2 linked regions of the Homo sapiens genome follow. The protein of the gene in region 1 interacts with the protein of each later gene in a pairwise test. Each region holds a gene or a part of one and is shown on either strand. Other genes may lie near its edges.

Region 1 (3,829 bases):
TTTCTAATATGCTCCTATTCTCTGTTCTCTTTGTATCCTCCGCTTGCTTGATCTGTTTATCTTTTTAAAGTATATCAGCCCTTTACTCTTTCCTATCTACCTCAGACGTCATTTAAGATGTTTCATAAGCACCCATATGTTTTTCCTTCTTCTACCTTTATTTTTACCCAATAATCAGTGAAACCACAACCATCATGTAAATTCTTGTCTCTTCTTTCTATGATATCAAACCTGGGTTCCTTTCAGTTCATCTAACATGTACTTTTTCTTTTGCTTTAGGACTTTAATATATCCTGCTTGAGATATTACCCTCAGTCATACTTCATACCTGTTTTATAACCTCTAGATAGTGCTCCATCATCATCAGCCTGTCACTTCTCTTGACTCTAGGTTGAGTCCCTGTGATAGGGACTTGTGATTTACTTGTACGATGCTTCTCTGATGGATTGTAGACTCCATAAGGACAGGAGTTTTGTCTTACTTTTCACTGTAGTCCAGGTGTTGGCACATGGTGTGAATGAGCGGATAACTACTTGTAGTTGTGCTCTGATACATACATTCACCAGCTTTACCTAGCCCATTGCAGTAACTTTTTCCTCTTTAGCCTGATGATGTAATGGATTACATTAGTTGATTTTTGAATATGGAAGCAACTTTCATACCTGGAATAAATCCTGCTTGTTTGTGGTATATAGTTCTTTTTAGATGTGGTTGGATTTGATTTGATCATATTTTGAGGATTTTTACATTTGTGTTCATGAGAAATATTAGTCTATAGTTTTCTTGATGTCTTTGTCTGTTTTTGGTATTAGGGTAATGCTGGTCTCATAGAATAAATTAGCAAGTATTCCCTCTGCTTATATCTTCTGGAAGAGATTGTAGAGAACTGATGTAATTTCTTCCTTAAATGTTTGGTAGAATTCACCAGTGAACTGCTTTGGGTCTGGTGCTTTCTGTTTTGGAAAGTTATTGTTGATTTGATTTCTCCTATAAATATAGGTCTCTTCAGATTATCTGATTCTTCTTGTGTGAGTTTTGACAGATTGTGTCTTCCAAGGAATTGGTCTATTTTGATAAAGTTGTCAAATTTGTGGGAACAAAGTTCATAGTATTGTTTTATTATCCTTTTAATGTCCAGGGGTTTATAGTGATGTCCTCTCTTTGATTTCTGATATTAGTAATTTGTGTTTTCTCTTTTTTTCTTTTTTTCTTGTCTTAAGACAGTAATTTAAAAAAATTACTGTCTTAACAATTCCCTTTTTTTTGGTGTATCATTTACTAAGTTAAATTATATAGGGTTTTTTGGGGTCTGTAATTGATGTACATTTGATTTTAAAAAGACACTGTCTTATATCAGGACAAAGCAGATTTACATACAACTATCAGCAGAAAAAATTTCTGTGTGATCTGAACAGAGGTACTCTTTTCTTTGATCATAAGAAAATGCAGTACTTTTAGAAGGTAAAGCTATTAAGATTACAGAAGTTTTACCAAAATGCTTTAAGCAAAAACTCTTTTAAGAAAAAGGTATGAGTTCTCATTTTCTATTCTTAGCATAAATTTTAATACTTTCTAATAGAACCTAACTCTTCTGAATGCCTTTCAGCATCATCCAAAGCTTGAACTTCTATTTCTGGATTAAAAATTCATTCACAAATGAGCTGTGCAATACGATCACTTTTTCTGACTTTAAACTTTTTTTTGCCAAAATTAAACAGTACAGCACCAACATTTCCTCAGTAATCTTCATCTATCAATAAAGTGTTTTGCAGCTAATCCAAACCATGGAGCTACTCTTCTGTAACATCCAGAAGGAAGAGCTATCTGAATGTCCATTTTCCCTAGAGCTTTCTCCATAGGTGGTATTGTATCATCATAGGCACCGTTGAGGTCATAGCCTGTGGCCTGTGTGGATCCCTGAGTCAGGGTTGTGGCCTGCTCAGAGAATGGGGCAAAACGGAGCTGCATGCTGCCTTCCTCTGCAAACCAGCCTGTTTGCTGGGGGTAACGGTGGGTGTCTCTTCAGAGCAGGGCATGGCAGAGTGAAAATGCGAGCAGAGGAGAGAGCAACAATTTTTAAGTGTCCATTTTAGTAGTGCAAACTATATTGACATTGTTGTACAACAGATCTCTAGAACTTTTTCATCTTGCAAAACTGAAACTGAAACTCATGTTCGAACAACTCTGCATTTCCCCCTGCCCAGTGGTAGAGGCTTGCTTATTTTATTGATATTTTCAAAGAAACAGCTTTTGATTTTCTTGATTTTTTTCCCTCTATTTCCTATTTTCAGTTTCATTTATTTCTGCTCTAATTTTTATAATTTTTTTCTGCTTGTTTCGGATTTAATTTGCTCTTCTTTTTCTACTTTCCTAAAGTGGAAGCGTATTCATTTTAGATTTTTTGTTTCTAATATATGCATTCATACTATAAATTTTCCTCTAAGCACTGCATTAGCTACATTGCATAGATTTTGATAGTTGTATTTTTATTTTCATTTAGTTCAATATATTTTAAAATTTCTGTTAAGATTTCTTCTTTGGACTGGGTGTGGTGCCTCACGCCTATAATCTCAGCACTTTGGGAGGCTAAAGTGGCGGATTACTTGAGCTCAGGAGTTTGAGACTAGCTTGGGCAACATGACAAAACCCCATCTCTACTAAAAATACAAAAATTAGCCGGGCATGGTGGCATGCACCTGTAATCCCAGCTATGTGGGAGGCTGAGGCATAAGAATCACTTGAACTCCAGAGGCAGAGGTTGCAGTGAGCCAAGATTGTGCCACTGCACTCCAGCCTGGGTGACAGAGTGAAACTCTGTCTTTAAAAAAAAAAAAAAAAAAAAAAATTCTTTGAACCATTATTGTTTAGAAGTGTGTTGTTTAATATCCAAGTATTTTGAGATATTTTCTAGCTACCATTCTGTTATTAGTTGTAGTTTAATTCTGTTGTGGTCTTAGAGCAGACGCCATATGATTGCTATTCTCTTAAGTTTGTTAGATTGTATTTTATGGCCCAGAATGTTGTCCACCTTGGTGAAATGTTACGTGCGAGCTTGAAAAGAATGTGCATTCTGTTTTTGTTGGATGAGGTAGTCTATAGATTGCAATAGACTGGCATTTTTATTGGACTGACAGTAGCCTGCGCCTTCTCCAGTGTATCTTTCAGATAGTTTCTACAGTGATCTTTCCAAACGAGATGTATACATGTCATTCCCTTACTGAAACTTCCCCAGTGGTTCCTCATTACTAAACAGCTAAAATGTACTTTTTTGCATGGGCGGAAATAGCCGTCATAATCCCGTCCCTTATCCAACTTTTTTTTTTAACTGTAGTTCAGCCCCTTTCGCCACCATTTTATGCTTTAAGCATATCAAATTAATTTAGTTGCCTAGGTCCACTATGGGTTTTTTCTGTTACTTTTGTTCATGTCGTATATGCCTATAATATTATTTATTTGGCAATTTACTGTTACTCATGTTTCACCTTAAAAGATGTCTCTTTCTTGTGATTTTTCATTATGGTAACTATAATAACTTTGCATTTCTTTGCTTGCAAGACTGTCTTGTCATTATATTTTAAGGTATTTTTTTCTGTATCCTGCCTTTAAATTTTGTGTTCTCAATACCTGGGTTATAGTAGGCAATCAGATTTTTTTTGAGTGAAAATATACATTCTGTTTTTAATTGAGGAAAAGTTTAAAGTGAAATGTTCAGATTCTGAGTTTGTAGTTCAGAGTTTTGACAACTGCATAAACTTGTATAATCCATAATCCATCAAGATACCAAATGTTTTAGTAATCCTGGGAAGTTTTTTTGTAATTCTTCCCAGTC
Region 2 (3,829 bases), on another chromosome or scaffold:
CTATTATGTGGCCAGACTCTTGGCATCTGTGGATGTTATGGGCTGAACTGTGTCCCCTGCCAAAATTCATGTGTTGAAGCCCTATCCTGCAGTCTGTCACATGACTATAATTGGAGCTAGGGCCTGTAGAGTGGTGATTAAGTTAGAATGAGGCCATTAGGGTGGGCCCTAACCTAATCTGACTTGTGTCTTTATAAAAAGAGGAAATTGGACACACAAAGAGATACCAGGCATGCTTGCACACAAAGGACCATGTGAAGACACTGTAGGAAGGCAGCCATCTGAAAGCCAGGAAGAGAGGCCTCAGAAGAAACCAAACCTGCTGACCCCTTGATCTTGGACTTCCCAGCCTCCAGAGCTGTGAGGAAATAAATGTATGCTGTTTGAGCCACCCAGTTTGTGATATTTGATTGTGACAGTGCTAGCAGACTAATACAGTAAGTATTTAGTAAATGTGGAAAACAACAGACTGGATGGTGTTGAGGACTTAAAAAGATATAAAACAAAGTCTCTGCCCTCCGTGAGGTTACAATTTAGTGATCCCAACACAGTTCGAGCCTTGTCTTGGGCAGCTTCACCGCACCTACGACTTAACCTTGGAAAGTGCCGTAGGCCCTACCTGCCGCTGCTGCAGCTGCTGCAGGCCATGCTGCCGTTCTTCCTCTGAATTGTAGAAGGGCATGGAAGTGCGCAGTGGAATCAAGAGCTGACATATTTTCTCATGGATGCTGTCCCAGTCAGCCTTCTGATGTACCACCCCACTGACAACGGAAACATAGACTTTATGATCTTTATATTTGGCATGACTTAAGATTCCATTAACCCTCCTACTGGCCTATCCCTAGACACCAGAAAAGTAAGCCAAATACAAACCAGGCAGGGAGCTCAAAGCCATTTCTGAGACTCAAATCTCTTTCCTTTCATGTGGTTATTTGATGATGTATAAACTGTGTTGGGATTGGAGAGTATGTTGTTTCTGCAGGCACACATTCACATTCTGAAGTCACACAGGGATGCTGGCATGCAATTGCTCATAGTGTTCTCTTATAATCTCTTTTATTTCTGCAAGGTTGGTAGTAATGTCCTCACTTTCATTTCTGATTTTAGTAATCTGAATCTTCTTTTCTAGGCCAGTCAACCTAGCTAAAGGTTTGTCAATTTTGTTGGTCTTTTCAAGGAGCCAACTTTTGGTCTCATCAGTTCTCTCTGTAGTTTCTTTATTCTCTGTTTTATCTCTGCTATAATCTTTAATTTTCCTTTCTTCTGCTAGCTTGTGTCTATACCCAACACAGGGCTGTGCATAAAGGAGTTTATAAATATGTTTTAGTTTGCTCTTCTTTTTCTAGTTTCTTAAGATGAAATGCTAGGTTACTGATTTGAGATCTTCTTTTCAATGTAATGTATATTAGTATAAATTCATATGAGTACTAAATTCATACAGTAACCTCTGAGTACTGCTTTGCCAGCATCTAAGTTTTAGTATGTTGTTTTTGTTTTCATTTATCTCAAAGCATTTTCTAATTTCCTTTGTAATTTCTTCTGTGACTCATTGGTTAAGAGTGTGTTATTTCTACATATTTGTAAATTTACCAAATTTCCTTGTTATTGACTACTAATTTCATTCCATGTAGGTGGAGAACATACTCTGTATGAAATCAATCTCTATAAATTTATTGAGATTTATTTTATGGTCTAATATATGTTCTATCCTGAATAATGTTCTATACGCACTAGAGAAGAATAGGCATTCTCATGTTATTGAATGGTGTTCTACAGATACCTGTTAGGTCTAGTTGGTTTATAGCGTGATTCAAGTCTTATATTTCCTTGCTGATCTGTCTAATTGTTCTATGCATTACTGAAAGTGGGATATTTGATCTTCTATCTAGTTGTTCTATTCATTACTGAGAGTGGGATACTGGATCTTTCATCTAGTTGTTCTGTTCATCACTGAAGGTAGGATATTGAAGTCTTCAACCATTATTATTAAATTGTCTATTTTTCTCCCCAGTTCTGTCTGTTTTTGCTGCATGTATTTTGAGGCTCTGTTGTTAGATGCATAGTCATGGGTTTTTGCATTTCTATTGCTTATTACACATTTTCACTTAAATGTAAGTTAACTGTTTGATTCCATTTATACATATTTCAAAACAGGTAACAATAATCTAGAGGAGGGATCAGAAAAGCTTTTCTGTAAAGGGTCAGATAAATATTTTAGGCTTGAGAGCTATAGGATCTCTGTTGCAACTACTCAACTCTGCTGTTGTAGCACAAAAGCAGCCACAGACAATATATAGCCATGTTCAAGCACCTTCTTGGACAATATTGCCACCTTCTTGGACAATAGAAATGCAATTAAAGTATATTCTTTACAAGTTGTGACTGCTACCAAAGAAATGACAGAAACCATTTAAAATGTTTTTGGGGAGGTAGAGAATTATTATAAACAGATCAATAAAAGCACTTAGCCAGGATATAGCTGAGTTCCACAGGGAATTTATCAAGTGGGGCTTGTAAGCAATGGAAATGTTAACTTAGATGCCTGAACTTTTGTTCCACTGAGAGCCACTAACATATCTTGCCTTTCTAAATAAAGTGAGCTTTATTTATATATTTGCGGGCTCCCTGCTTATTGATCTGTCCCACCTGTAACACCTAACACAGGGTCAGGGATAAAGTAGGAATGGATAAATGCTTTCAATCAGGGCTCACAATTAAGTAGCTTGTGAGCCACATGTTTTGTTTGGCTATTATCATGTTTTTTTTTAAGCTGAATTTGAATATCTTTAGGTAGGGCATTCATTCTACAATTCACCACTGATCCTATAGCTTCCTATTATTGAATACCACTTCACTGTTTGTTTTCTTAGTGATCTGCAATATTTTTTGCAATAATTTTTCCTTTTGTTTGACATATGAAGCGCAAATTTAAATGCCGTCACTGGCCAGGAGAAGAAAACGAATGGTGAAGTGGTATTCAAGAACAGGAAGCAATAGTATTTGTAGTGAATTACAGAATGTACGCCCTGACTAAAGACATTTAAATTCATGCAAACCTATGGTACTGAAGTCTCTTTTACTTGTCACCAATGTTTTAGTATGTACTTCCATAAAATTACCTTTTCTTAAAAATGTTCTACTGTCCTGTAATCCCAGCACTTTGGGAGGCCGAGGAGGGCGGATCACAAGGTCAGGAATTCGAGACCAGCCTGACCAATATGGTGAAACACCGTCTCTACTAAAAATACAAAAAAATTAGCCAGGCGTGGTGGCGCATCCCTGTAATCCCAGCTACTTGGGAGGCTGAGGCAAGAGAATTGCTTGAACCCGGGAGACAGAGGTTGCAGTGAGCCAAGATGGTGCCACTGCGCTCCAGCCTGGGTGACAGAGCAAGACTCCGTCTCAAAAAAATAATAAAAAAATAAAAGTTCTACTGTGTCTCTAAAGTAAATAAAAATGTGCTATTCTCTGAGAATGGTCATAATCCACTATAGAGCAATATGCACAAGATTACACACAATATATAAAATAAATGTATTCAGAGAAAAGAAGGAAATTCACCAAAATTTCAGGTTATTAATCCCTGGGTTGTGGGACTATGGCTTATTTTTCTTCTTGATTTTTTATATTTTCAGGTTTTCTGCAGTGAGCATGAATTGCAATTATAATCAGGAAAAAAATTCTTTTGCAGAAAAAAACTTTCACAAATTCAGACTGACTTTCTTGTTCCTTAAACTTGGGATGATGAAAAGGAACATTTACTGTGTGCCAACATGGTTCCAGGAAGGGTACTAGATGCTTTACATTCGACCATCAAAACCTATAGAAC

What was found.
Region 2: the proteins of ZNF148 (region 1) and ZMYND12 interact in binary tests that used the Homo sapiens proteins (3 or more experiments, as listed by UniProt).

Annotation. Positions count from the first base shown.
Region 1 is NC_000003.12:125,309,090-125,312,918, reverse strand, and holds part of ZNF148 (zinc finger protein 148), read left to right. Parts: intron 1-1,421; exon of another isoform or gene 1,422-2,056; intron 2,057-3,829. UniProt on the Homo sapiens protein: Involved in transcriptional regulation. Represses the transcription of a number of genes including gastrin, stromelysin and enolase. Binds to the G-rich box in the enhancer region of these genes.
Region 2 is NC_000001.11:42,449,299-42,453,127, forward strand, and holds part of ZMYND12 (zinc finger MYND domain-containing protein 12), read right to left. Parts: intron 762-3,829; coding exon 620-761; intron 1-619. UniProt on the Homo sapiens protein: Required for sperm flagellum function and male fertility.